Linked DNA regions of Homo sapiens: region 1 is linked to region 2. The links come from fine-mapping of genetic effects on plasma protein levels. Region 2 holds a variant in brackets. A gene starts in the other region. All regions are shown on their reverse strands.

What was found. A credible set is the group of variants that fine-mapping cannot tell apart. PIP is the posterior inclusion probability: the model's chance that the variant is causal. Protein levels are from antibody-based Olink assays in UK Biobank. Linkage for the fine-mapping came from a reference panel and not from the study's own genotypes, which makes the PIPs less certain.
Region 1: it holds the start of CXCL6, and the variant in region 2 is the best candidate, but not a certain one, in a credible set for the plasma level of the CXCL6 protein (UK Biobank, PIP 0.53).

The regions. Positions count from the first base shown.
Region 1 is chr4:73,821,887-73,837,499 of GRCh38, reverse strand. CXCL6 (C-X-C motif chemokine ligand 6) reads right to left here and starts at 822. Exons shown (of 4, transcript NM_002993.4): 1 at 641-822; 2 at 404-536; 3 at 214-297. The coding sequence starts at 749. RefSeq lists silencers at 554-848, 4,454-4,748.
Region 2 is chr3:18,189,520-18,205,750 of GRCh38, reverse strand. The region is part of intron 4 of BALR6 (B-cell acute lymphoblastic leukemia associated long RNA 6); the gene reads right to left. It overlaps LOC124909351 (a long non-coding RNA gene), which reads right to left. Exons shown (of 2, transcript XR_007095842.1): 2 at 11,723-16,231. Among named protein-coding and RNA genes, the nearest start is that of SATB1, 230 kb to the left of the region's middle. The variant AG/G (reference allele first, on the strand shown) is at 8,459.

The DNA of each region.
Region 1 (15,613 bases), not on the chromosome of region 2:
TGTCAGTAATGAGCTCTGTGTAATTGTTCAGGCATGTAAGATTGGTGATAAAGGTTTACCCAGAACATTCCAGAAAAAAAGTTTCCTTATTCTTCTTAACAACCTTATAATTCTAAGCATAGTCTAAATCCTACAGAGAGAATAAGGACATTGTGAAGTATATGCTTTCCATAGAAGATATTAAAACACCACAAAGATCAAAGGGACAAATACCTGTCCAAAATTTTCTGGATGACTTTCTTTAGAAAAGGGGCTTCCGGGTCCAGACAAACTTGCTTCCCGTTCTTCAGGGAGGCTCTGAAGTAAAGAAAAAGAGGATGCACCCATGAGCCACAAAGGTTGACGACCCAGGCTGGAGGACTTGCCTAAGTCACAGTGGACACAGCAACACAGGAGAACTTACACCACTTCCACCTTGGAGCACTGCGGGCCTGCGGGGAACACCTGCAGTTTACCAATCGTTTTGGGGTTTACTCTCAGCGTAACGCGTAAACAAGTGCAACGCAGCTCTGTCAGCACAGCAGAGACAGGACCAGCTGGGGAAGAAAGACATTTTTATAGGGCAGGTTGCTGGGAGAGTTCCCTGGAACGCAGCGGCCCCGCAGAGGCTGGGATGCACCCCAGTGCCAGGAGCTCTCACCGCTGGCGAGGGGCCCCGGCGGCGTCAGCAGGAGCAGCAGCGCGAGCAGCGCGCACAAGGAGCCCGAAGGACCCGGGACACGGGCCGCGCGGCTGGACGGGAGGCTCATAGTGGTCAAGAGAGGGTTCGCGGGTTCCTGAGCTGGGTGGAGGCGCGGAGACTGGAGGATACAGAGCACTTTGGTTTCCTCGTGCCTTCTGCACTCCCTTTATCTGCATTCATCCCTCCCGACTGGCAGGAAACTCAAGCTTTGGGATGCTGGGGAAATTCCCTGAACTCAGGGGGCAGTGTGGAAAGAAGGGGTTGGTGGAGGGGGGCGGGAGGATGGGAATTGGTGGGGTGGGTGGCTGGGAGGAGCTGCCTGCTCCCTTAAGGGGGAGGACATTTTAGCCCCGCCCCGCGGTGGAGGGAGCTGTGGCTCCAGCCAAAATAGAGCAGCGATTCAGCAGGGTCTCATCCCCTGGGCTTGAGGGGTTAGCGAGGCTGGCTTCTCTGAGGCACGCAGCTGTCTGGGAGATGCTCCTCCTCTCCAATGGCCAGGACAATTAGGCAGGAGAAGGAAATAAAGGGTATTCAATTAGGAAAAGAGGAAGTCAAATTGTCCCTATTTGCAAATTACATAATTGTATATCTAGAAAACCCCATGGTCTCAGCCCAAAATCTCCTTAAGCTGATAAGCAACTTCAGCAAAGTCTCAGGATACAAAATCAATGCACAAAAATCACAAGCATTCTTATACACCAATAACAAACAAACAGAGACATGGTCTCAGCCCAAAATCTCCTTAAGCTGATAAGCAACTTCAGCAAAGTCTCAGGATACAAAATCAATGCACAAAAATCACAAGCATTCTTATACACCAATAACAAACAAACAGAGAGCCAAATCATGAGTGAACTCCCATTCACAATTGCTTCAAAGAGAATAAAATACCTAGGAATCCAACTTACAAGGGACATGAAGGACCTCTTCAAGGAGAACTACAAACCACTGCTCAATGAAATAAAAGAGGATACAAACAAATGGAAGAATATTCCATGCTCATGGGTAGGAAAAATCAATATCGTGAATATGGCCATACTGCCCAAGGTAACTTATAGATTCAATACCATCCCCATCAAGCTACCAATGACTTTCTTCACAGAATTGGAAAAAACTACTTGAAAGTTCATATGGAACCAAAAAAGAGCCCGCATGGCCAAGTCAATCCTAAGCCAAAAGAACCAAGCTGGAGGCATCACGCTACCTGACTTCAAACTATACTACAAGGCTACAGTAACCAAAACAGCATGGTACTGGTACCAAAACAGAGATATAGATCAATGGAACAGAACAGAGCCCTCAGAAATAATGCCGCATATCTACAACTATCTGATCTTTGACAAACCTGAGAAAAACAAGCAATAGGGAAAGGATTCCCTATTTAATAAATGGTGCTGGGAAAACTGGCTAGCCATATGTAGAAAGCTGAAACTGGATCCCTTCCTTACACCTTATACAAAAATTAATTCAAGATGGATTAAAGACTTAAACGTTAGACCTGAAACCATAAAAACCCTAGAAGAAAACCTAGGCATTACCCATTCAGGACATAGGCATGGGCAAGGTCTTCATGTATAAAACACCAAAAGCAATGGCAACAAAAGCCAAAATTGACAAATGGGATCTAATTAAACTCAAGAGCTTCTGCACAGCAAAAGAAACTACCATCAGAGTGAACAGGCAACCTACAAAATGGGAGAAAATTTTCGCGACCTACTCATCTGACAAAGGGCTAATATCCAGAACCTACAATGAACTCAAACAAATTTACAACAAAAAAACAAACAACCCCATCAAAAAGTGGATGAAGGACATGAACAGACACTTCTCAAGACATTTATGCAGCCAAAAAACACATGAAACAATGCTCACCATCACTGGCCATCAGAGAAATGCAAATCAAAACCACAATGAGATACCATCTCACACCAGTTAGAATGGCAATCATTAAAAAGTCAGGAAACAACAGGTGCTGGAGAGGATGTGGAGAAATGGGAACACTTTTACACTGTTGGTGGGACTGTAAACTAGTTCAACCAGTGTGGAAGTCAGTGTGGCGATTCCTCAGGGATCTAGAACTACAAATACCATTTGACCCAGCCGTCCCATTACTGGGTATATACCCAAAGGACTATAAATCATGCTGCTATAAAGACACATGCACACGAATGTTTATTGCAGCACTATTCACAATAGCAAAGACTTGGAACCAACCCAAATGTCCAACAATGATAGACTGGATTAAGAAAATGTGGCACATATACACCATGGAATACTATGCAGCCATAAAAAAGGATGAGTTCATGTCCTTTGTAGGGACGTGGATGAAATTGGAAATCATCATTCTCAGTAAACTATCGCAAGGACAAAAAACCAAACACCGCATGTTCTCACTCATAGGTGGGAATTGAACAAGGAGAACACATGGACACAGGAAGGGGAACATCACACTCTGGGGACTGTTGTGGGCTGGGGGGAGGGGGGAGGGATAGCATTAGGAGATGTACCTAATGCTAAATGACGAGTTAATGGGTGCAGCACACCAGCATGGCACATGTATAGATATGTAACTAACCTGCACATTGTGCACATGTACCCTAAAACTTAAAGTATAATAATAATAAAATTAAAAAAAAGAGAGAAAAGTTGGAACCATAGTAGTGGAAGCTTTGACTTGAGAAAAATTTCTGAAAGTCAATCCTTTCTAATTATTATTACTATTATTCAGGAAATGTTATTCATGATTATTGCCCTAAACTGAGAGTCCTTCCTCTTCTTGCAGGCAGGTCATTCTAGGTTTCTTGAATGACTTTTTGATTATCTGGATTTCAAACAGCTTTAGAAGCCAAGATAACGTGATGAAAGAGGCTCTATCCCCACCTGAAGTCAACAAGTTGCCTGAATTGGCCCCAAAGTGAAATCTGTTTATTAGAAATTGTATACTTGTAGTTTAGCAAGCATATGTGTGTTGAGGCAGTTTAATAAACAAAAATATCTTCAAACAAAAATCACCCAGCAAATTGCCATGGAAGATAAAATGTACTTTTGGCGGTTGCTATGCTATTGAATTGGAAGAGGTTTTGGTCTTATTGGGAGTGAAGTGTAGTATGGTGAGCATAGACTGAAGTTTGCCAGGGAGCCCGGGCCTGCCCCAGCTCTGGTCCCACCCCCAGGTGTGTTTTTGACACCATTTGGAGATGCTGTAGGAGGTTGATGAATTTGAGGGGCTCATGTGAAAGCTTCTTCTAGAGATTTGCATCAATTGGGCAGCATAATAGCACCCAGTCTGTTTTCCCCCAAACAACCTCATGGGGGGAGGAATTCTCCCCATAGGCTTCTGGAACCATCTAATTTCATGATTACTGGTGACCAAGGCTGTTTCTGCAGACCTGTTCTAGTCCCCAGTGAGCCCTGCACTGCCTCCTGAAATTGAAGGGTGAAGTAGCTTCCAGCTTCTCCCTCTCTCCTTCTTTGTTATCCGTGGAGGAGTTAAAGCACTGAAGGTTTAAGTGTCTTCCACCGTCTTGCTCCATGGCAGGCATGAGTACGGCACTGGAATGGCACATAGACTTTCTTTCACAGAAGTCTAACTAGATCCTCTTCTGGCTGGTTCTGAAGAACTTTGTCCTCAGTGCAGGCCAGCAAAGGTCATCAGTAAACATGACGGCATTGAGAAGCCAGTTATGGAACACAACTCTTTTCCTTGTCCCTTGTGACACTGGGGAATTTTATTAACTTCCTCTCCTGTCACCTCCATTGGTGAGCAAGAAAGAGGTGTCACAGACCTTTACAATTTTGATTCTGGAAGGAAACAAGAAATTCATTGGCTGAGGAAGGCTGGGTGGTTTGGCCTTCAGTTTGTGGGAAGCTAAATGAGAAGTTCTCACAGCTTCCTGACACCATCAACATCATACCTGACTCAGCAAATGGAATCCTTCATCTTTTTGGGGAGTGGTAATCTGTAGAAAACAGCCTGCAGATTTAGCATATTGACATTTTAAAGATTAGAATGTGTCTAAAGACAAAAGATAAGCCTTGCTGAAATGGCTAAGACAAAACTTCAAAAATGTGACTCAGCTCCTAGGCAATTAATTCAACTTAACCACAGGGAATAAACCACAGTATAAGGCTTTGTTTAAAAAAAAGTTTAGAGATGACATAGGTTATTGACTTTTAAACTCTCTCTCCCTGTCTGTATGTGGGTTAGTTCTGAATAAGCCATTTTAAACATAAATGAACATATGAATTTGTTTTTGGCACCAAATGGTAAAATCAGAGAGGAATCATGAGACAAGATTGCCAGTTCCTCCTGATGGTCTTATAAGTACACATGTCTTACCTGCTTTGCACTCTGAATCAATTCACAAAGGATTATTTATAGAATGTAAGAAGAAAAAATATTTCTGCAGTTGATAAGCAAGTAATAGAAAGTCCCCAATAAAAGTGAGTTGTTGGGTTACCCAACCTAATCAGGAAGCAATGTGTCGCTTTTCCTGGCTTCCCATGAAAATCAGCCTGGGTCATTGTCCATGTCTGGCTTCTATCTAGGCATTCTCTGATGTTGGCCTTGTAAAAATACAGGAGGGAACATGAATGATGCAAAGATCCCCTGAGGTTAAGATGGAAAGCATGAAGAACTACGACAGACATAGGACTTTAAAAGTCATTGCTCCCTTTTCACTAGTTTAAAGGAAAACCATTTGTGTTACCTGCACTGTGTCCAGCTGGTAGAGAAAAGCTCTGTGTTATTTTTGTTCCCAACAATAAGGGAAAAATTCTTCCAATGCCATTTGCATCCTGATGGCCTGAAAAGTTTACTCCCTGTCAAAATCAATCCTATTTTAGTCATTGTACCACAGATTAATATAATATGAATGAAAACATTCCAAAGAGTTTGTGGCGTTCAAAACACTTTTATGCTCATTATTTCTTGAGCTTCACATTTATTCTTTGAGGCTGATTAAAAAAAAAAAAATCTCTCTCCCAGAGAATGAGTTAAGTAATAGAAAATCCAGAATTGGCAGTTAAACACCAGAGAACGTGCCCCAGTAATTTTTAATAGTTTCCAGATTACAAACCACTTTCTTCACAGTTGCTGGCAAACACCCCACAGTGGCTTTCCACAATCTGGGTAACCACTTTATTATATTTCCCAGAAACCACATTTTAAGTTATTGAGAACCTCAATCCATTCACTCCTATCTTTGGGACCACAGTAATATCAAGGGTAAAAGAGACTTCCAACATATTCAACTTGAAACCACTTTCTATATCCCTCACTTTCTTCAAGGCAAATTCAAAGTCCTGTCTTTGAAAAAGCTTATTCTGACAAAGCCAGAATAGAGTATTCCTTCCACCTTTGCTCTTCGAACATCTAGTGTACTTACAATAACCACTGCATGAGGCAGAGTTTAATTACTCCTTAATTTTACTTTTATCTCCCTCAAGTCAACTACGAACTCCTTAAAATCAGTGACGATATCTTACATTTCTCACACAACCTCACATAATTTCTTAGTTCAACAGCGAACAGTCTATGAGCACTTGGTGATGGATAATGATAACAACTTTTTAATTTTACGGTGTTCTTTACCTTACAAGTAGATCTTAAAGAGAAAAGAATGGGGCTGTTTATTGTCATTAACTCCTGTATTTTTTTAAACTTTACAATTTTGAATTGGCTGCCTCCTATGTGGGAAATTATTTCTGGGTTATTCTTAGGGAAAGTTAGAATGATATCAACGATATTTTCTGTCTTTGAATTCAAACTGTTCAAAAGAATGTTCAGAATCCGGCAAGGCACTTGATATTAAAAGAAAAAATACATATAACTAATGTATTAACCAAATTACATAGTTTTTGTGACATAGAGATTGTTGGAGATAAATGACAATGGAAAAATCTGATTACATTACACTGCGTTGAATGTTAACAGTGTGTGTATGTCATTCTAAATTGATTTTTTCTAACTAGAGAAGCCTTTAATTATATGATTTAGTATTTGGCTTAGGTTAGGCCTTTTCAAATGTTTTTTCCAAGATTTTATTTTTTATATTCACCATTCTTTGTATTACCTTTAAGAAATGCTATATAATTGCAATAATTATTATCAGGTTAAGCATATCAAGTGTTTCAGTATAAGGAAGGCAATAAGAGTTTAAGTGGAGGATAGAGTAACTTGCATGTATGCAAAGAAAAAGGAAAAAACACCAGCAACTGCTGAGTTTACTTTGCAATGTGAATGCAGTCTGTCTCCTAAATTGAGCTGGTAGTCCAATGAAGAAGTACTATCATCCAGGGAATGACTTTGCTCCAGGGTTGCTTCACCTTTGCTTTGAAATGCCAGGAATATTTTTCTTCCTTTTGCCAATTATCTAATTTTCCTTGCTGCTCATTTCAGATTATATCTGTTTGAGGACTAAATCAATGAACCTTGACTTAGTCTGTACTGAGCTAGATTTCAAATAATCATAGCTGGGCTTCTCTTCCCCACCTCTTGTGTGGATGGGGCAGCTAGTTATCTGTTGTCCAACTGTGCAAACGTTAGAAAAGTTTTTGTTGACAACAAGAGTTGCTACATAGGATAAAAAAAGATAAGAATTAAAGTTTTAAATGTTTCTAAAAGCCTTAAGTTTTTCAGAAACAGGAAGTCTTCATTGCTTTCTTCAAAAATTTCTTCTGGGCTAAGGAAAGATATATATATATATATATATATATATGTATGTATATTTTAATGTTAGATATTTTAAATAACTTTGAGAAGGCATTTCTATACTACAAAAGTCTTTTATGTAAGTTAGATTTCTAATACTGTGCTAAATAATGCTTGTTTGATATATAATTTCTGATCAACATTACCTTCATAACTTGTATTTTTCAGCAGATACTGTCTTCTGTATTACTTCATAATATATTTAATTCTCATTTAATATATAGTAGAACCTCAGGATTGCCGTTTTAATAGGAATAATTGTAATATATTTGTATATGTGTGATTTTTGTATTTCCTAGACATTCAAAACCGTCTTTTTCCTTCCTTGTCACTGCTTGAAAAAATAGGGAAGACCTAACATTTGACAAGTATCCCAGGCAATGTTCATGAACTTAAAAGACAAACACACAAGTACACCACCACTACCACCAGTGCCCTCACCACATCGACAAAACAAAGATCAAAAGAAAAAAATAAGAAAAAAATATGTCTTAGAGTTGATTTTTTGCCACTAATTCATTAAATCTCATTATGAATTTCCAGTGAATAACTATTTTCATGCATATTTTAAATGTTATTTTTTAGTATAAGAATTGGGAATTAGGAAATTGCTCACACTGACATAAAAGGTGTTGCAATGCCAAGCCAAAAGTCACAAAATCCTAGAAATTCTGGCTAATGTTGGACTATAAGTTTCTTACTAGCATTTTGGGATTTTAAAGCGTGACTTCCTCTGAAGAGTAAATTGACCAAATTGCTTTAACAAAATATTTTACTTTGAATCATTTTGATTTCCAAAAATTGCAGTATTAGTAAATCAGACAGGAAGTTATTTTCTTTGGAACACAATATATTTCTGACGTTAGAAACAGTTTTGACTTTTTTTCCCTAACTTGAATTTGAGACCAGACTGATGAATGCTATGACCGGGAGGGATTATGTCATAGAACAGGAAAACATGTGGTGGCTCATGTATTAGAAATAGACCACAATGTTGCTGTGCACAAGACCGTTCTTTGTAGTAAATGGAAGTTGTGAAAGTTTTGTATTGAACTATATCCAGCCAGCTTTCTGTGATGGTTTGAAAAAAAATTGCTTAAATTCAGGCATATACAGATTGAAAATCAAAGAATGGAAAGAAAAACACCATGCAACCAGTACCATATGAAGTCTAGAGTGGCCTTATAAATATTCAGCAAAACAGACTGCAAGAAAACAAGTATTATCAGAGATACATAAGCACATTTCATAATGATAAATGGTCAATAAATAAAAAAAATTATAAATTTATACATGCTTACTAAATAAGCTTCAAATTACATGAAACAAAACTACCAATTAGAACTTACAACAGGTATTATCTTCAATCACAGTTAGAAATTTTAATACCGTTAAGTAACTAATAGAAGTAGACAAAAATATTAATTAATGTACAAATGATTTGAATAACACTTGATCTACTTCAAAAAGAGCAAGACAATTATTTCTAGTCTCAGTATTTCAACTCTATTTTATGCTAATGGTTATAGGCAGTGAAGTAAGTTTTAAAAAAGAAATAAAGACATAAAAATGAAAAAGGAAGAAATAAAACTGTCCTTATTTGCAGATAAAATTGTCATTAATACAGAAAACTAAAAATAAATTATAAAATATACTGAACCAATAAGTGAATTTAATAAAATTTGAAGATAAAAAGACAATATGTAAAAGTCTACTTTATTTCTGTGTTATACCAGCAAAATATTTGAAAATAGAATTTTTAAAATACCATTTACCATAGCATCAGAATTATAAAACACTTAAGAATAAATTGAACAAAAGATGAACAAGAATTCTATGCTGTATATCACAAGGCTGCAAAAAAAAAAGATAAAAAGACTGAAGCAAATAACAAAGTGTCAATATCATGTTTATAAATTAGAAAACTCAAAATTGCTAAGCTGATAATTCTCCCCAAGTCAGTGTGCACATTCAATGCAACGTTAAATAAAAATCACATTAAGCTGTTTTTGAGAAATTGATACATCACTTATACCATTTATATGAATAAGCAAAGACTTATAACAGCTCAATTTTGAAAAAGAAGAACAAAGAGAAACCACACTATCTGATTTCAAGGCACAATATAAAACACATTAACAAGGACAGTTGGAGTAAGGAGAGACAGAGAGACCCATGAAACCAATTAAAGTACAGGAACAGATACAGATATGCCATCTGTTGAATTTTCATAATGGTTCCTAGGAAATTCAATGAACAGTAATATTTTGAAAGAAAATTATTTTTTTCCCGAGCAGTAGGTCTCAACAGTGGGCTCAAAATATTCAATAAGCCATGCTGTAAACTGTTGTCAAAAGAGTTTTACCATTTCATACTCCCACCCACAAAGGAAGTGTGCCCTGACTACTCCATATCATCATCATCATTCTTTTTAAAATTGTAGCTACTGGTAGGCATTTAGTAGTATCCCATTAAGCTTTTAATTATTATTTCATGATTACTAATGATGTTGAACACCTTTAAGGATGCTTGCTTGCCATTTGTAAATCTCCCTTGTAAAGTGTATTTTCAATTCTTTTGCTCATTGAGAATGCACATAGTCATGTAAGAATTCTGATGGAGATGTACAAAGAAATTAATGTTGCCTTTATGCCTGTGAACACAAAATCTATTCTGCAGCCCATGGATCAAAAAGTAATTTTGACTTTCAAATAGTATTATTTAAGACATACGTTTTGTAAGGCTGTAGCTGCCAGAGATAGTGATTCTTTTGATGGATCTGGGAAAAATAAATTGAAAAATTTTGGGTAAGGATTCATCATTCTAAGTACTGTTAACATTTGTGATTCATAGAAGGAAGTCAAAATGTCAACATTAACAGGAGTTTGGAAGAAGTTGATTTCAACCTTCATGGATAGTTTTAAGAAGTTCAATACTTCAATGGAGGAAATAACTGCAGATGTGGTAGAAATAGTAAGACAATTAGAAGTGGAGCCCGAAGATGTGACTGAATGCTACAATGTCATCACAAAACTTGAATAAATGAAGAATTACTTCTTATGGATGAACAAAGAGTGGTTTCTTGAAATGGAATCTACTCCTGGTGAAAATGCTGTGATGATTGTTGAAATGATAACAAAGGATACGGAGTATTACATCATAAATTTTGTTGATAAAGCAACATCAGGAATTGAAAGGATTGACTCCAATTTTGGAAGAGGTTCTGCTGTGGATAAAATGCTGCCAAACAACATAATGTGCTATAGAGAAATCTTTTGTGAAAGGAAGAGTCAATCAATGCCACAAATCTCATTGCTGACTTCTTTTAAGAAATTGCCACAGCCACCTCAACCATCAGCAGCCAACTTCCTGATCAGTGAGCAGCCATCAACATTGAGGCAAGACTCTCCACCAGGAAAAGTATTATGACGTGGTGAAGGCTTAAACAATTGTTAGCAGTTTTTAGTAATAAAGTATTTTAAAGTTAAGGGATTCTTATTTTGTAGACACAATGCCATAGCACACTTAATAGACTACAGTATCATGTAAACACAACTTTTATATGCACAGGGAAACAAAAAAATTTTGCGACTCACTTTATTTTGATATTCATTTTCTTGCAGTGGTCTGGAACCAAACCCACAATATATCTGCAATGTTCCTGTAAATAAGTAGGGCCTCGAGAAAGGGATTGTCCATGTGTCATATTTTGGAAAAAAAGTTGAGCAAGATTTAAATAAATAGGTAGTTATGATTACTTCTTCATCCTCAATGAGTGACATGCTGAATGCTGCTAAGGGTAGATATTCAATGGTGGCAACAAGAAAGCATTATAATTTTAGTGCTCCTTTAAATGGAAGTGGATTATTTGCTAGTTTTAGGTTAGGTGCTATGTGGCACTGTGGGAGTAACAAGTTGATAGAATATGCTGACTCTGCTGCTGTGGGTACGCAGGAGGAAAACACATTAGTTAGTATTTCAAAATATGATCCTGTTCTGTAAGCCTGTCCCAAAATTACAATAACTGACTCCAATAATCCATCGACTTTGATTCCAGTATTGACAACGTGTTTCACAAAGTTTAATTAAATCATTTTTGTTTTATATTCAATTGGCAGTCTCACATTTGCATTTGATGTCTTCTTCCATTTTGGGCCAATCAATTAATCAATCAGTCAATCTAACCTGGACTCACATTAGTTTTCTGGGGCAAAATTAATTCTGGTTTATCTACAAAATTTTTTTTTTCTGGAATAACTCAGTTTTTACCCTTCTGAAGTGTTTTCTATTGTTCTCTCCTATCCTCTGTTATGGTTCAGATTCTTTCACTGTGAATTTCTGTAAGAACATTCTTTAATGAAAAAGTTCTGCATACTTTTTGCCATCATGTGATTTATAGTACACTATGAAGTTACCGTGAGTAGGACTGCCAACTCCCTGTTCCTCCAACTGTCTTTAGCTAGACTCTGGTAAAGGCACAGGTAAGAGAGGAAGTCATTAGTTTATGCTTGCAAAGTGCTGGGGACATGTTCTCTCAGATTACATATGCGGTTACTTTCCTCAGAGCAAAGAATTCTGGCATTTTGAAATACGAAATGTTATATTTTTTTTTAAATCTGTAAACTCTCATTCTTCTTATCCTGATATAAGAAATTTTCTAAGCCTCAAAATTGATATTATGATGTAAGCTAAAAAAAACTGTGGAATCAACCAAGGTCAGCCCAGGATCTTTAATCAAGTAGGTACCAAAACCTTAAATCACAGCCTCCTTGTACCCTGCCTACAAAGTATGAGAAGTTAAAAGGACTCTATCTAATTGAAAAGCAAATTCTGAAATAAGAGACCCAGAGTAGCTAAAACAATCTTTAAAAAGGAGTAATTTGCAAGACTCATACTTCTCAATTTCAAAATTGCTACATAGCTACAACAATCAAGGCTGTGTAGTACTGGCCTACGGTGGACAATATATACCAATGCAATAGAATTGAGTCCAGAAATAAAACCATAAGTTTATGATCAGTTGGTGTTCAACAAGGGTGCCAAGATAAATAAATGGGAGAAAGAATAGTCTTTTAAATAAATAATGCTGGGCAATCATATATCAATATACAAAAGAGTGAAGTTGGACCACTACTTCACACCATACACAAAATTGGACTCAAAATACATCAGCAACCTAAATATAAGTGCTAAAACTATAAAACTCTTAGGAAAAAAGTTAGGCTTTGATCTTTGTGATCTTGTATTAGATAATTATTTCTTAGATATGACACTAACAACCAAATAACAAATTGGACTTCATTAAAATTTTAAAAAGTTGTGTATCAAAGGACATTAACAAGAAAGTGAAAAGACAGCCCATGAAATGGGAGATAATATTTTCAAATTATATACATGGTAAGCACCTAGTATCCAGAATGTATAAAGAAGTCTTACAGTGCAGTGACACAAAGACAAATAACGCTATTAAAATTGGGAAAAGTATTAAAATATACATCTCTTCAAAGAAAATATACAAATGACCAGGAAGTATGAGAAAAAATGTTCAACATCAATATTAACTAATGTATTCTTCATTGTGCTTAGGGAAATATAAATCAAAACCACAACGAGATAATATAAAGTGTTTCAAGGATGTGGAAAAATTAGAACCCTCATACATTACTGGTGGAAATGTAAATAACGCAGCAGTTTTGGGAAACAGTTAACAATTACTTAAAATGTTAAACATAGAGCTTCTATATGACCCAGCAATCTCACTTTAAGGAATACAACAAAAAGAATTGGAAATATATGTCAATACAAAAACATACTTATGAAAGCTCATAGCAACATTATTTGTAATAGCCGAAAAGTAGGAACAACCAAATGTCCACAATTGAAAAATGGATAATCAGAATGTGGTATAAGAGTTCTTTATATTATTACAATGGAATATTATCCAGCATAAAAGTACTGATTTATGTTACAACATGGATGGGCCTTATGCTAATTTCATTCAGCACAAAGAAAACATTATGCAAAGTAAAAGAAGCTAGATACAAAAAGCTGTTTTGGATGATTCCACTTAAATAAAATGTTCAGAATAGGCAAATCAATTGGACAGGAAAACTAGTGGTTGCCAGGGTCTTGACAAGGGAGGAATGGGGAGTGACTGGTAATGGGTGTGGCTTTGGGGGATGCTTATAATATTCTGGAATTAGATAATAGTGATGATTACACAACTTTGTGAACATTTTTTGAAAACCACTAAAGTGAGCACTTTAAAAGGGTGAATTTTACAGCAGGTGAGTGTAATCTCAATGAAAAAATAATTCCTGGGTGGTGTCCCAGGACCACTACTAAATTAGGATGAGAGAGTGAGGTTGTTAGGAATCTGTATTTTAACAAGCTCTCTAGGAGATTTTTCTTTTGCACACTAATGTTTGAAAAGCATTTCTTTAAAGCATTAAAAAGAGTCTGTCTGACAAATGCTTAGAATGTTCTTACTGGCCTGTTTTTCTCATCAAGCCTTCAGAATATACTTCTGCAGTGCTTCATAAGTCTATAATATAATAATAGTAATGATAACAATAATAAGGTATACCATATCTGTTGTTATGGTTTGTCCCTGTGTCCCCACCCAAATCTCATCTTGAATAGTAATCCCCACATGTGGAGGGAGGGACCTGGTGGGAGGTGATTGAATAATGGGGTGAGGAGGGTTCCTAGGGCAGGGGTGGTTTCCCCCATGCTGCTCTTGTGATAGTGAGCAAGTTCTCACAAGAGCTGATGGCTTTAAGTGTGGCACTTCTCTCTCTGTTTCTCTCTCCCCACTGCTGCTATGTAAGATGTGTCTTGCTTCCCCTTGGCCTTCTGCCACAATTTTAAGTTTCCTAAGGGCTTCCAGCCATAGAGAACTGTGAATCAATTAGACCTCTTTTCTTTATAAATTACCCAGTTTGGGGCAATCCTTTATAGCAGTGTGGAAATGGATTAATATATGTGTCAAGAAAATTTTTAAGAAGTCATACAAGCATCCAGATCACAGCACCTCATGTTTCCCAATTTCTTTCTGCTGATTCAATGCCACATAAAGTCTTTTATTTTGTCTTAGTCAGCTCTTCTGTTCCCTTCAGCACAAATTTGAACCTTCCCTGGTTTAGTCTTTTCAATTCCTCTCTCTCTCTATCTCTCTCTCTCCCTCCCTCCCTCCCTCCCCTTTCTCCCTCTTCTTCTCCCTCTCTATGTCACTCTTTATCATTGTCTGGTAGAAACTTTCTCAATTAATTTCTCCCTGCCTTGCAGAATGACTCTTCATTTGCACCTAGCTTTCTCTATTTTCATTTTATTCATTCAAATACCCAATTTCTATTTACGGAGAATCTTCATTGTGTTAGTGCTCAAGATACATGATGAACAGAGCAGTACAGGACCTTGTCCTCATGGGACTCTCCTCATTTGCTAGTGGGAGAAGTAAAAATAAAACAGTCAAAGAAACAATATAGAGACTATGGTAGATCTATGAGTCAGAGTAACATCACCACTTGATCAAAAAGATCATGGGCTGGGAATGCTTAGCTTAGAACAATGGTCACTAAGAAGGTGAAATTTTAAGCTGACACCAGAAGAATAGAAATGATACACACCTGCAAAGAGCATAGAAATGAGGGTTCCAGGCAGAACACACGGCAGGACAAAAGTCAGAAGCAGGACGAGTTTGCTATGTTTTCATAACTAAGAGTAGCAGCTGATGGCTGGAACTTAGAAAGGGGGAAAATGACATGAGTGAGATCACAGAGGTCATCAGGGACATGGTCATGCAGAAATTTCTAGGCCAAGATGCAGAGTTTATAACTTATTTTATTTGCAGTAGAAAGCAATTCAAGGATGTTATGTTACAAGAAGGTATGATCTGTTTTTTTTTTTGTTTTTGTTTTTGTTTTTTTTTAATCTGACTTCTGTGTGGAAATGTCGTAGTGTCAACTTTGGATTAAGAAACTCAAGTTAGGCTGGGCATGGTGGCTCACGCCTGTAATCCCAGCACTTGAGGAGGCCGAGGTGGGCTGATCACCTGACGTCAGGAGTTCAAGACCAGCCTGGCCAACATGGCGAAACTCCGTCTCTACTAAAAATATAAAAATTAGCCGGGCATGGTGATGTGTGCCTGTAATCCCAGCTACTCAAGAGGCTGAGACGGGAGAATCACTTGAACCCAGGAGGCGGAGGTTACAGTGAGC
Region 2 (16,231 bases):
TTTTAAAAAGCTGATCAATATGTGAACATTGAGATTTCTTTCCATAAATTGTGGATTTTGCAGAAATAATTGGTATATGCCTAAGTAGTATTTTTTACTCTGGCTTATAATTATTCCTTTTATTTTCCCATTCTTTCTTCATCAGTTTGATCATTTTTTTCTTCCTTTTGAGGCCCCAAAATACAGTTATAGAAAGTTTGTGAAAACCGCTTTATATGAGGAAATGGTTATATCTTCAATCACCAACAAAGAAATAAACAAAGGATTTGAGTGCTGGAAGAGCCATCATACATAATTCATTCAATATCTACTTGTCCATCAGTTATTTCCTAAAATTGAGAGAGAGCTTAAGTTTAATGTTTTGTTATCTCCCTCACTCTTCTTTAAGCACTAGGAACTTTCCATCCTTATAATTATTTCAAATATGCCACAACATTAATTACAATCAAACAGTTCTGTATCCTAATCAGATCTTGGACTCAGAGCACCCATAAAACTATTTTTCTTTGTATATGTAATAATATTCAGTTTGAACTATTCTTGGCTGAGGTCCCAAGACAATAAAGGTCACAATTCAAATCAAGTTGTGAGGTATCTATGCAGGACATGTAAAGGTAGTCTTTGATAACCAGTTTTTGCAATTCTTAGTTGAAGATCCACCTTTATACTACGAAAGAAATTTGGAGAAGATAAAAGGGTCAAATTAAAAGTTAATATTTTGGAGAGAGCTGCTGTGATGCTATGAATCCTACCTTGCCCTCAAAGTGGAGACCATAATGGGCAGGGAATGAGTTTTGAGGAAAATACTTGGAGAGTTTAAAATGAGTCCTTTGAGCCTTGCTGCCACAGTGGCTTTGTGTCCTCCCCATTCCTGAAAAATTTAACATAAGAGAGGCTGACTGGTAGTAGAACAAAGAAAGATGGGTGCGTTCGAGTCAGCCTGCATGCCCAGAGTTTTTGTCACTTAGGATTTGTATGTGTTCTATGCACCAGAAATGGGCTTCTTTGCAAAGAGAGTGCTGAAATAGGCACCATCTTAGGTGCTGTCCAAGAAGACTCTGCAGGCACAAAAAGACAGGAGAGAGAAGCTGTAAGTAAACCATGGGCTGCCCACAGACTGAAGAAGTAGTTTGGGATCAGCTGAATGCGTGCATTTACTCATGTCAAGGGAACTGATTGTATGATTTTGTATGGATTATCCCTAGAAAGCAGAGCCTGAGACAAGAGTTTGAATACAGATATGCTATTTTGTAAAGTGAATGAAAAGGAGTGGGAAACAGGCAAGAAATAAGAGGAATAGAGGAAAGCTTATGCAAGTGTGTTATTGAGCTAGGAGCAAGGTAGAATGTGTCTCAAAATTGTCTACATGACAGACTTCACATGTTCTCACTCATTTGTGGGACTAATGACTGAAACAATTGAACTCATGGAGATGGAGAGTAGAATGATAGTTACCAAAGGCTGAGAAGGGTAATGGGGTGGCAGGAGTGAGGATGGCTAATAGCTACAAAAATGTAGTTAGATAGAATGACTAAGATCTAGTATTTGATAGCACAATGGGGAGATTACAGTCAACTATAATTTATTGTACATTTAAAAATAACTAAAAGTATAATTGGAATGTTTGTAACGAAAAGAAATGATAAATACTTGAAGTGATGGATACTCAATTTACCCTGGTGTGATTATTATACATTGTATGCTTGTATCAAAATATCTCATATACCTCATAAATATATACACATACTATGTGCTCATAAAAATCAAAAATTAAAATTTTTAAAAATGTCCACTTTCTTCCTGAGAGACAGGGAAAAAAAGCATTTATCTATGGGGCAGCAACTCCCTCATACTTGCCTGTGTGTTTCAAATGGGTTCCCAGAGGTGTCATACACAGTAGCATCAGAAAATCCACACTGCAGAAAGAAAGAAATGTATGGTGCACCAGAGATAAGATGCAACCAGTTACTTCTGAACTCTGTGGTTCTCAGAGCAGTGACTGAAGCAAAAGGTCATTAGTCAAGAAGATGGGAGGTAAGGCATATGAGGTGTCTGATACATACGATATCTTCAAAGAATTCAAAAAAGTATTGTCAAAGAATGTGTCAGATTTTAAACTTGACAAACCCAAAGAGAGTGGAATCTAGACAATCATACAGGTATTTGTCAAGCTCCTGCTGCTTTCCTCTAAGCCCTTCTCTCTTCTTATAACTATGTTACAATACTAATTATTATTATATTTAAGTTATATGTTATAATAACAACAATTATTATAACAGTGGACTGAAGATGTTAAACAGCTGTTATTCCTTTAAAGGAATAGTAGATAAAAAATGAAGTAACTTTATGATTACATCCACCATGGTATTTCTGTTAATAAAAAAAAAAAGCAGTTAAACAACTGCATATGGAATAAAGTTGTGGCTTTGGCCCTGCCATTGGTTATAAGTTTATGCATCTGTGGAAGTCTGCTTTTTCATGTGTGGAGGATAAATCAGAGAAAGGACAAGAATCCTTCTTGTATTTGATGGATTTGTTTTAGTATAATGAATGCCTGGGAATTTTCAAAACCATGACCCCATGCTGCTATGGACACCACCATTCCACTGAGTGAAGACTGTTTCCATATAGCCTTATATAGCTCTAGGAAGCACAGTCCCAGAAGCTGCTATTTAGTGGAGAAAAATATTAGGGATTAATGCTGGGAACATTTGCTACCATCCTCCACGATTTATTCAGACAATGCCTTATATCCCATTTATTGCAGGTATCACCAGATGCTGAGCCTATGGAATTAAAATAGAGGTCTCCTAAAAAAGAAGAAGAATCAGACTGGCATCAGATGATCCAGAAAAAATGGAGGGAGAAGACAACAGAGCAAGACCTTCAAAGTTATGAAAGGACTACTATATCCAGTCAAACTGTCAATTAAATAAGAAAACAAAAATAACCTATTTTGAGACATGTGAAAACTGCAGAGGTTTACCTCTCATGCAGCCCTTTCCATAAATTTTTTTGAGGATATACTCCAGTAAAATAAAGAGGAAGATGTAGATTGTACAAAATCATAGATCTACCATAACTCAGAAAAGATGCCTCTGATCACCCATTCTAGGTCAATTCTGACCTTTCTTTATTACACCACCTTGGTCATTTCCTTCTTAGGCTTATAAAAATCTATATTTATTTCCTGTAAGTTTATTTAAAATGTATTTCTTAACTTGCTTATTCTTGGCCTCACCCATTAGAAGGTAAGCTCCATAAAAGGTGACTATGCTGTATCAAGGAATCTTGTATAGTGTCTGGTATTTAGGTAACAGACAATAAATATTAAAGAATGAATAGCATATCTCTATTTTTTAACTTGAGTTAAACCAAACTCCATAGGTGAGACTTCTAAGAGCCTTTAAAATGCTTTTTGAATTTTCATAATGGAGGCATAGTAAGAATTATAGCCTAAACATAGAATCCTGGTAGCATCTTAGATGGTGGTTAATGCTTTGTGTAACACACTCTGGCACTTTTAAAATTGTAAATCAGTTTAATTTTTATCACAAATGTCCAACACTTTTCTCTTATGAAGAAGTAAGAGTCATAAATCAATTGAGAGATTTCTCCCAGTACCTGTGTTTTTGTGTGTGTGTGTGTGTGTTTTTCCTTAAGAGTTGGGGCCCGGCACAGTGGCTCATGCCTGTAATCCCAGCACTTTGGGAGGCCAAGGTGGGTGGATTACCTGAGGTCAGGAGTTCGAGACCAGCCTGCTTAACATGATGAAACCCCGTCTCTACTAAAAATACAAAAATTAGCTAGGTGTAGTGGCGGGCGCCTGTAATCCCAGCTACTCAGGAGGCCGAGCCAGGAGAATCGCTTGAATCTGGGAGGTGGAGCTTGCAGTGAGCCGAGATCACGCCATTGCACTCCAGCCTGGGTGACAGAGTGAGACTCCATCTCAAAAAAAAAAAAAAAGAGTTGGAAGGTTCCTTTAGTATTACCTCAACTGACCACCACAACTACATTGAGACATGTGTTGAGAGGTAAACTTACTTTTTTGAAATAGATAATCTTCATAAGGTTGATTTTCTTTTTGTAATTTGGTGACCCACTCAATTTCTAACTTATTAGACAAGGACAACATGTGGGGGTCACCTCTCTGCCCTTCACACCACAGAGCACAGCTGCAACACAAGGATACACAAAGGAGCCTATCTACCACCCATTGCTCTCAAGTGTTATCTACTGGAATGCAGTCCAAACTACAACACCAAAAACACTTTGCTAATTTCCCCCCACTGAGAAACTAATATGGTTTTGTTGTGTCCTCACCCAAATCTCATCTTAAATTGTAGTTCCCAAAATCCCCATGTGTCATGGGAGGGACCTGGTGGGAGGTAATTGAATCATGGGGGCAATTATCCTAATGCTGTTCTAGTGATAGTGAGTTAGTTCTTACAAGATTTGATGGTTTTATAACAGGCTTTCCCCGCTTCGCTCGGCATTTCTCTCTTCTGCTGCCACATGAAGAAAGACATGTTTGCTTCCCCTTCTGCCATAATTGTAAGTTTCCTGAGGCCTCCCCAGCCATATGGAACTGTGAGTCACTTAAATGTCTTTCCTTTATAAATTACCCAGTCTCGAGTATGTCCTTATAGCAGCATGGGAATGGACTAATACAGAAACCAAAGATAAGAATTTAATATAAAAAAACCCTCTACAGAGACTTACCCCTCTGAAAACCTCCAGAACAGAATGCACTAACTATACTCAATATACACCACAGTTCAAGGAACACCAGCCTTCTCATATGAGAAAGAATTAATGCAAGAACTGTAGCAATTCAAAAAGCTGGAGTGTCCCCTCACCTCCAAACAAGCCCACTAGCTCCCAGCAATGGTTATTAGCCGGTCTGAAATGGCAGACATCGAATTCAGAATCTGAATAGCAAGGAAGCTCATCAAGATCCAGGAGACAGCTCAAACCCAATCCAAGGAAGCCAAACAATCCAGTGAAATGATTCAAGAGCTGAAAGATGAAATAGTACTTATAAGACAGACCTAAAATAAGCTTCTTGAGCTGAAACATTCACTACGAGTATTTCATAATACAATTGGAAGTATTCACAACAGAATAAACCAAGCTGAGGGAAGAATCTCAGAGCCCAAAGACTGGTTCTTTGAATCAACTCAGTCTGACACAAATTTTTTAAAAAATTAATGAACAAAACCTCTGAGAAATATGAAATTATGTAAAGAAAGCAAATCTATAATTTATGGGAATCCCTGAGACAGAAGGAGAGAAAATAAGCAACTTGGAAAATATATTTAAGGTTATAGTCCAGGAAAATTTCCTAAATCTTATTAGAGAGGTTAATAGGCAAATTCACGAAATATAGAGAACTCTGGCTAGATAATACACAAGAAAATGATCTCTGAGGCACACAGTCATCAGATTTACCAAGGTCAATGCAAAAGAAAAAAAATCTTAAAAGCAGCCAGGGAGAAGGGTCAGGTCATGTACAGAGGGAATTCAATCAGGATGGCAGTAGACCTCTCAATAGAAACCTTACAAGATGGAAGATATTGAGGCCCATTTTCAGCATCCTTAAAGATAATTCCAATCAAGAATTTCAAACCCTGCCAAAGTAAGTTTCATAAGTGAAGGAGAAATAAAATCCTTTTCAGACAAGCAAATGCTGAGAGAATTCATTTCAACTAGACCAGCCTTACAAGAGGTCCATCAGAGAGTGCTGAACATGGAATCAAAAGAATAACACCTGCTACCACAAATACTCACTTAAGCACATAGCCCACAGACACTACATAACCATAGCAACTGCATAACCAAGTCTACATAACAACCAGCTAATGACACAATCTCATATCTCATACCATAAAATATGATCTCAAAATCTCATATCAAAATCTCAATCTCAAAATCTCATATCAATACTAACCCTGAATGTAAATGGTCTAAATGCCCCCTTAAAAGACATAGGGTGGCTAGCTGGATAAAAAGATAAGACCCAATCATCTGCTGTTTTCAAGAGACCCATCTCATATGTAATGACATCCACAGGGTCAAAGAATTGGAGAAAGATCTACCATACAAATGGGGGAAAAAAGAACAGGAGTCACTATTCTTACATTAAATAAAGCAGACTTTAAACAAATGGGAAACAAAAAAAAGCAGGTGTCACTATTCTTACATTAGATAAAACAGACATTAAACCTTTAACAATTAAGAAAGATGAAGAAGGCATTACGTAATGATAATGAGTACAATCTCAAAAGAAGACTTAACCATAGTAAATATATGCACCCAACATTGGAGCGCCTAGATTAAAAAAAGTTCTTGACCTATGAAAAGGTTTACATAGCTGCATACAACTACAGAATATACATTCTTCTCATCCACATGTGGAACATATTCTAAGATCAACCACAAAAGCAAGTCTCAATACATTTAAAAAATTGAAATCATACCAAGTACACTCTCAGAGCGGAGTGCAACAAAAACAAAAATCAATATCAAGATGATTTCTCAAAAGTACACAAATAAATGGAAATTAAACAACTTACTCTTCATTTCAATAGCTTTTGGGGTACAGGTGATCTTTTGTTATATAGATAAGTTCTGTAGTGATGCTTTCTGGAATGTTGGTGCACCTGTCACCTGAGCAGTGTACACTGTACCCAATACGCAGTTTTTTATCCCTCACCCCACTCCTACTCTTCCACCCTTATGAATCCCTAGGAAATACTCATCTCAACATTTGTCTCAGCAAAGAATATTTGGCTAAGCCCCCAAAAGCAATTGCAACAAAAATAAAAATACACAAGTGGGATCTAATTAAAGTAAAGATCTTCTGCACAGCAAAAGAAATTATCAAGAAGTAAACAGACAACCTACAAAAGGGAGAAGATATTCACTGTGTGAATATCTTGATATTGAACTATGTGTTCAACAATGGCCTAATATCCAGACTCTATAGAAAACTTAAAGGAAACAACAAGTAAACAATAAATAACCCCATTAAAATAACCCCATTAAAGTCTACTATATCAGTCTTATTCCTTTGCATCCTCATAGCTTAGCTCCCGCCTATAATTGAGAACACACAATATTTGGTTTTCCATTCCTGAGTTCCTTCATTTAGAATAATGGCCACCAGCTCCATCCAAGCTGCTGCAAAAGACATTATTTCATATATATATATATAATATTTTTTATCCACTCATTGGTTGATGTTCACTAAGGTTGGTTCCATACTTTCCAATTGTGAGTTGTGCTGCTATAAACATGCGTGTGCATGTGTTTTTTTCATATAATGACTTCTTTTCTTTTGGGTAGATACCCAGTAGTGGGATTGCTGGGCCAAATGGTAGTTCCACTTTTAATTCTTTAATGACTCTCTGTACTGTTTTCCATAGTGGTTGTACTAGTTTACATTCCCGCCAGCAGTGTAAAGTGTTCCCTTTTCACCACAGCCATGCCAACATCTAATTTTTTTTTTTTTTTTTTTTGCTTTTAAATTATGGTCATTCTTGCAGGAGTAAGGTGATATTTCATTGTAGTTTTAATTTGCATTTCCCTGATAATTAGTGATGTTGAGCATTTTTTCATGGCACTGGTACAAAAACAGACACATAGACCAATAGAACAGAATAGAAACCCCATAAATAAAGCTACACACCTACAACTATTGGATCTTTGACAAGGCCAAAAAAGCAAATAGAGAAAGAACTCCCTAAATAAATGGTGCTCAGATAACTGGCTAGCCATATGCAGAAGATTGCAGCTGAAACCCTACCTTTCACCATATACAAAATTAACTCAAAATGGACCAGAGATTTAAATGTAAGACCTCAAACTATGAAAATTCTAGAAGGCAAGCTAGGAAATACTCATCTCAACATTTGTCTTGGCAAAGAATTTTTGGCTAAGCCCCCAAAAGCAATTGCAACAAAAATAAAAATACACAAGTGGGATCTAATTAAAGTAAAGATATTCTGCACAGCAAAAGAAATTATCAAGAAGTAAACAGACAACCTACAAAAAGGGAGAAGATATTCACAAACTATGTGTTCAACAATGGCCTAATATCCAGACTCTATAGAAAACAACAAGTAAAAAATAAACAACCCCATTAAAAAATGAGCAAAGGACATGAACAGACAGTTCTAAAAAGAAGACATACAAGCTGCCAGTGAGCATGCAAAAATGCTCAGCATCGCTAATCATCATAGAAATGTAAATCAAAACCACAATGAGATACTATCTCATACTTGTCAGAATAGCCATTATTAAAGAGTCAAAAAACACAGATGCTGGCAAGACCACAGAGAAAAGGAAACACGTATACAATGTTAGTGGGTATTGTCCAGCCACTGTGGAAAGCAGCCTGGAGATTTCTCAAAGAACTCAAAACAGAGCTACCATTCAACTCAGCAATCCCATTGCT[AG/G]GTATATATCCAAGGAAAAATAGATCATTCTACCAAAAAGACACATGCATTCATATGTTCTTCACACATTATTCACAATAGCAAAGACACGGAATCAACCCAGTGCCCACCAATGGCAGTCTGGACAAAGAACATGTAGTACATATACACCATGAAATACTACCTAGCCATAAAAAATAATGAAATTAAATCCTTTGCAGCAACATAGGTGCAGTTGGAGACCATAATCCTAAGTGAATTAATGCAGGAATAGAAAACTAAATACCACACTTTCTTACTTACAACTGGGAGCTAAACATTGAGCATACATGGAGATAAACAAGGGAACAATAGAAACTGGGGACTATTATATGGGAAAGGAGAGGGGCATGGGTTGAAAAACAATCTGTTGGGTGCTATGCTCACAACTTGGATGACAGGATTGTACCCCATACTTCAGCATCATGCAATATTCCCATGTAACAAACCTGCACGTGTACCCCCTGTATCTAAAATAAAAGTTGATATTTTAAAAAAATACAAAAACAGACTAAGAAATCTGGAAAAATAAATATATAAATAAAATGTAAAGTAAAGAAAAATGCTTCATTTAAAAAATCAACTAAATACAAAAGCAGACAGTAATGCAGAAAGCACATGACAAAAAAGCTATAAGGTACATAGAAAACAATTAGCAAAATCAAATAAATAAGTCTTTTTTATGAGTAATTACTTTAAATGTAAATGGATTAAACTCTCTACTCTAAAGACAGAGATTGGAGGAATAGATTTTAAAATATATGATCCAACTATTTGCTATCTGCAAAGGATTCACTTTAGATCTAAATACACAAATAGGTTGAAAATGAAAGGATGGAAAGAGATGCTTTATGCAAATAATAGACACAAGAGACCATGGGTAACTATACTACTTTCAGACAAAATAGACTTTAAATTTTATACAAGATTGCAAGACACAACAAAAGGCATTATATATTAATGTTTGCTAGTACAGCTAGACAGAAGATAAGTAAGAAAACAGAGGACTTGAACACCACCACAAACTAACTAGATGTAACAGACATATACAGAAATCTCTATCCAACAACAGTAGAATGTACATTCTGCTCAAGGGCAAGTGGAACATTTCCTAGGATGGGCTATATTTTGGGCCCTAAATTAAGTCCCAATAGAGCTATAAAGATAGATATTATACAAAGTATCTTCTTTGACCACAACAGGATGAAGTTAGAAACCAATAACAAAAGGAAAATTGCAAAGTTGACACATTTGTGGAAATTAGAGAAATAAATAATGGTTACCAGCATCTGAGAAGGGTAGGAGAGTGGGGGGATAGAGAGAGGTTGCTTAATGTGTACAAAATTACAGTTAGAGCAGAGAAATAAATTCTAGTGTTCTATAGCATAGTAAGGTGATTATAGCTAACAACAATTTATTGTATATTTCAAAATAGCTAAAAGACAGGAATTAGAATACTCCCAACACAAAGAAATAATAAATGTTTGAGCTGATAGACATCCCAGCTGCCCTGATTTGATTGCCACATTTGTAAACATGTATTGAAATATTACATGTATCCCATAAATAGATGTAATATTAGATATCAATTAAAAATTAAAAATAAGTTTAACAAAACAAAAATAATAAGTATTGCCAAGAGTGTGAAGAAGTTGGGGAACCCCTATGAATTATCAGTGGGAATGTAAAATGATATAACCACTGTAGAAAATTAAAAATAAAATAAGAAATATGAGTCAGCAATTCCACTTCTGAGTACATATTCAAAAGAATTGAAATCAGAGTCTGGAAGATATATTCATACACACATGTTCATAGCTGCATTATTCATGATTAGCTGAAGTGTAAGCAACCCAAGTGTCCACTGAGGAATGAAGGGATAAGTACAATGTGGTATACATATATCATATTAGTCAGGGTTCTCCAGAGAAACAAAACCAAGAGGATATACATAAAGGAAGAGATTTATTATGAATAATTGACTTACACAGTTATGGAGGCTGAGATGTCACACAACCTGCTTTCTGCAAGCCAGAGAGCAGACAAGCCAATATTGTAACTCCAGACTGAGTCTGAAGGTCTGAAAACCAAGGGAGTGAATGGCATCAATTCCAGCGAAAGGACAGAAGAAAACTGATGTCCCAGCTCAACAGGTAGGCAGGAAGCAAAAAGGGGTAAATTTCTTCTTCCTCTGCTTTTTGCTCCACTCAGGTCCTCAGTGGATTGGATGACACCCAACTGGGGAGGGCGCTCTACTTTATTAAATCCACCCATTCAAAGGCTAAACTCATCTGAAAACACCCTCACAGATACATCCAGATATAATGTTTAATTTGGGCACCCTTTGGCCCAATCAAGTTCACACATAGAATTAACCATCACACATACAATGGAACATTATTTTAGCCCTCAAAATGAAGGTAATTCTGACAAATGCTACGACATGATTGAACCTTGCAGACATTATGTGAAGTGAAATAAGCCAGTCACAAAAAGACAAATACTATATGATTCCACTTACATGAAGTACTGAGAGTACTTAAAATCGTAGAGACAGAAAGTAGAGTGGCCATTGTAGGGGCCAGGGGGAGGGGAAATGGGGAGTTATTTTTGCATGGGTGTAGGGTTTCAGTTTTGCAAGACGCAAAGAGTTCTGGAGACGGATGTGGTGATGGTTGCACAACAACATGAATGTACTTAATACTATTGAACTGTGCACTTAAAAGTAGATAAGATAATAAATTTTATGTTACGTGTGTTTTACCATAATAAAAAATTGGGAAAATCAGATTAAACACACCTTTAAAAAGAAAATAATCATTCTCCAAGTAAAGAAAATAATCACTCTCCAATAGGGTCCAGTCAAAACTACCAGTGGAACCACGAAGCCAACCCACAGAATGAGAAATAATAAATAAGATATACTTTTTGAAGATATTAAGTTGGGGCTGGTGGATGTTTGTATGGCAAAAGATAACTGAAACAATTGCTGATTTCTAGAGAGGGAAACTGGGTGGATAGAGGACAAAAATTAGGACATAGTTTTACTTCTCACTTCATGATTTCTTTGTAACTTTTGACATTCAACCATTTTTATATATTACCTTTTTTAAAAAAACTAATTTTATTTTAAATTTTAAAAAATGTTATTTTGCAAAGCAACAAAAAGAACATATAAATGTTCCCCTAGGAAATTGTTTTAATTATCTATTCCTAGTGCTGCTAAAAAGGTAGAGACAGAGAGAAATTTTTCAGAAATATTTTATTACATGAAATTTGAATCAATTTTCTTTAAGACATGTGTGTCCTTTGATCTAGCAATTTCTTGTCAAGAAATTCATCTTAAAGAAATTATCTAAGCTTTGACTAAGTGTATTTACCCAAATGCACTTATAACTCCTTTACAATAGCTAAAAATAAAAATTTTTTTAAATCTAAATGCTAAACAATAATAGGTTAATTACTTGATTGTTACTTCCATATAGTGGAATACTATGCAGCCATTCTAAATCATATGGTGAAACCTCACTTATTCACTTGAACTAATTATGGTATATTGTTAAGTTTTAAAACATAATAAAATGATATATATCACATTATACCACAACTCAGAGAGCCATAAACCACTGGCTATATATGCTGCATGAAAACATAATAGACTTACCAGACAAAAAAGAGTTTCCTTTAGACATTCAAAGATTTCTACATTTAGAATGAATTATTTTATAATAAGAATATGTATTTTATATATAGTAAACAGATATTTAGTCCTGCATATAAACTATGCCAACATAATAAAAGTGACTTGCTTGAATTTAATAAAGTGGGGAAACAATTTATATAAATAATAAAAATGAAATTTTTAATTTTTTAATTCAACTATTATGCATCCTGAAAAGTCCTCAACACACACATTCATGACTATGGTATATGGTTATGTATGCATATATATATATCCATACATTTATTCAATACACAAGGCATATGTCAAAATATTCATTATTAAATAATGTTTAAAATAATTTTACTCCTAAAGCCATTGCTACATCATGCTTCTTAGATTTAAGCTATGAGTGAGACCTGTAAGTCAAGAACAAGGGCAGGAATTCTTAGCAAGTAAGTTTATAGGCTTTTCTAACATCACTGCTCACCTACATGGCAGCCATTCTTTCTTTTTTCCTCCATAACAGAATCCCTCTTCTATTCAAGTACTAGATATCCTTGTGCTTCAGAAGGCTGTCCAATGGAATGAACAACCCCAGGCCCAAAAGATGAATACTGATCCATTTAAGACAATCATGGTAATTTTATTCCTGTTGTCAGTTATTAGTTTAAGAATAAACGCTTGACAAAAGTTCTTGCCAGAGACACATGAGTGAAGTCTAATAAGAGAGCTTTAGGAGAAGACTTTCTTGTTCTCAGAGATGGACCCAAGGAAGGGTCACATTCCTTTTCCCTCTTCTAGCCTTTCAGGGTTGTTGCCTATTGTGATGGCCACCACCTTGTGACCGTGAAGTGTAGCTGATATATTGAGGATGAAAGAATGGAAAGATGGAAGGAAGCTAGGTCCCTAATCACATTATTGAATTCTTACATTATTAAGCTCTGGAAATTTCTTACCTTTGAACTTCCTACCAACCGAGAGAATATTTTTTCCTTATTTTTTAAGTCACAGTGGGTTGGAGCTTCTGTTAAATGCAGGTGAGAGCACTCTGACTGATACAACCTCTAATAGAATCTATACCTCATTTAACAACTTTAACTTTTCCTAAAGTCTTGCTGCTGTGTTTAAGTAAAATAATACTCTTATGAATTTTAATGAGGAAAATTATGGTGCATTCCATCCCAACCCAATGCATTCAAATAATTTCACAGATTGAAAAATCTATCAATCAAACAATGAGAACAAGTTCATATAAGTAACAATATAATAGTAAACAAACATAGCTTGTACACAATATAAAGATAATGAAGGTTTATTGTACTCATCAAGGGTGATAATCAGTGGCAGTTATTGGAAAGAGATGTAAAGTTGTTAGAGGTAGCATCCCCTGAAACAGAGATTAGCATGCCAAAAGTGTGTTAAGGAGTGGCCTCAAGATCAGTATACTGTGAAATGGAAGAAAAGAAAGCAAGATTGGGCAGAGTGGTCTCAACAAAGTCCTCAGCCAACTCCATTCATAGCTCTGACGTTGGGGCAGCCTTTCCAAATTGTTCTGAATTGAAATGAAGAAGCCAGAATTTTACAGGCTCACTTTAACCAGTTGTGGGATTCGGGCTGCCCCCTGAAAATGCCACGGTAGTTCTCTTAAACTTAGGGCAATTCCCAGAGAGGACTGCACCTTGAAAGCTGTCAATGGATTGTACTTCTAAATACTGAGTAATAATCCTTTGGTACTAAAAGGAAACCTAGTCTGTGTATCACCACATCAGCTCTACAGTGGAGCCTTTTTTGGAAGGTAGTGGAAAGGCAGGTGACTGATTTTCATGTGCACAATCAATATTAGAATCATACAGCCTTGTCTTTTTCTTTAAAGCTTTGACCAAAAAAGGTAAAGTTGACTTTTGAAATACACAGAAATAGCATCATGGAAATGCTGCTACATCTTCCTCCCTTTTACTTGGCTTACATATACAATGCAAAACCTGGGGACTCATTCAAGCATGACATGAAATTCAAATTTGTTTCACATGATATTCTTTGATTAGAAGCTATTGTGTTGAGTAAATTAGAAGTATGTCCTTGCCTGAAATAATAATGTGAAAAATGATTTCTTATGGTATGTGTTACCTAGTGGATTTGGGGAATTAAATGTCATTATACAAAAAAAATTGTTTGATAAATAGCATAAGTTTTCAAGTGTGGTTATAGTTAAAATTCATTAAATGAACAATTGTTATATGCAGTAAGCTTATGTATAATATATCCTAACCACGTATCCATAAAACGTACCTCCCAATTGTCAGGTAATTGAATTTTCTTTACTTTTCTACAGTTGTCCATAAATCATTACTCACTTTCATGCTGATGGTATTAAAGGTACAGAGGAAGGCACTGCCTTGAAAATGTTCACTTTAGTTGACCATTTATAGAGTTGTCATTCTGTGGGATTTTTAAGCAGCATAGATACATTCAAATATAACACCATTAGGGTCAGTCTGTGACAAAACCCATATCTTTATATTATCTTGATACTAAACATTGTAAATACTCCCAAATTATCTAAAAAGAGGGCCATGCAAGGCCAACAAAAGGATTTTTTTTAAAAGAGTCACTTACCTAGCCACAAATATCTCTCTTCTGCTATCACAGACATAGGCTCTGGGTGAACCACTATACCCAAAATGCTTCCCAGAAGCAGACTCTGCTGGTGACCTACCCACTTCTTGACATAGATCAAATGGTAACTCTTCTGTGGGAAAGGGCTGGCTGAGACAGCAACATGAAGACCAGAGTCTAGACACCAAGATTGTAAAGAATGTTGGAAAGAGAGAATTTACATAACAGCCCTGTAACCCAAAAGATCCTGTCTCTCTTTCATAAGACATAGTCAAGCTCATTATGGAAGCAACCTCCAGCAGCTAATTGGTATTGCAGTGCTTCTGAGCTGTGAGCTAAAAAAGGAGGGAGATGTAAAAGACAAATAAAGTGACATAAAGAAATTCCCATCCTGGTCCTATCATTGTCTTGTGAGCTATTTCTATACTGTATGTACATAAACAGCTCTTCTTGGGTGGTGGTTTAATGTCTCTATACCTTCCATTGCAATTACACTGAATGGAGCTGCAACAAATCTTCGTAACGCCAATCTCATCTTTCCACCTCATTGACAGCTCAGGAAATGCATCTGAAATTCATAGTAGCCTCATAGCCTATGGCAAGAGAAATCCATGCTGCTAAAATTTTATTTTAGAATTCAAGCTGGTTTTCCTCAGTTTAGGATGCTCCGTTTTTTAATCTTTTGCTGCCTACCACACTGTATCAAAATAACCAGCCAATATTGTTCAACTGTCAGGGGCCTCAGCTGCCTTTGAATTTTATCAGTACAAATAAATACTGGAACATGTTAAAAATAATCCCAATAGATTAGCGTTAACAGTAATAGAATTAAAAGCAGAGGGGAAAATGTGTATAAACTTTGACTTCACTGCTCTCTCCCTTCCTTTGCTGACTTAAAAAAAAAAGGTTGAATAGATATTCAGACTGATTTCATGTTTAGGCTGATAGGGATGCTAGGCTGGGTCCCAAATTTGTGCAATGTTCAAAAAGAGAGAGATTTTAAAATCCCAGAAAAAGAGATATTTCCAAATTAATGGCATTGCCCGAATGCCTTGGCTCCCTGCACCCCACCAGGAAGGTTTATTATTTTCTGGTAAAATGTTGCTCGGATGGGGAGTGGTAGTCAGCGATGCGTCAGAGCTGCTCTTTGAACACATTAAAAAGCTGAATGCACAACAAAGAACAGATGTTCCAGCATGCCTTATTTATGCACCCATCAGCAATCTTCCAGTGACCACAAAACACAGCCTTTTTTTTCCCTCCTCCTCTCCATAATATTATGTTCTGATAAACTCACCCTCTTTATTAATTTATTTATTTTTGGCCCCAACTGAACTCCTGGGTAATTGTCTATGTGTGTGTGCACAAGTGTGTGTGCGTGTGTGCATATGTGTGTGTGTTATTTGAAAGTCTGCCTCCATCAAATCTGAATTCTATTGAACTGTGGAACAGGTGTGGATTCTGCAATTAGATC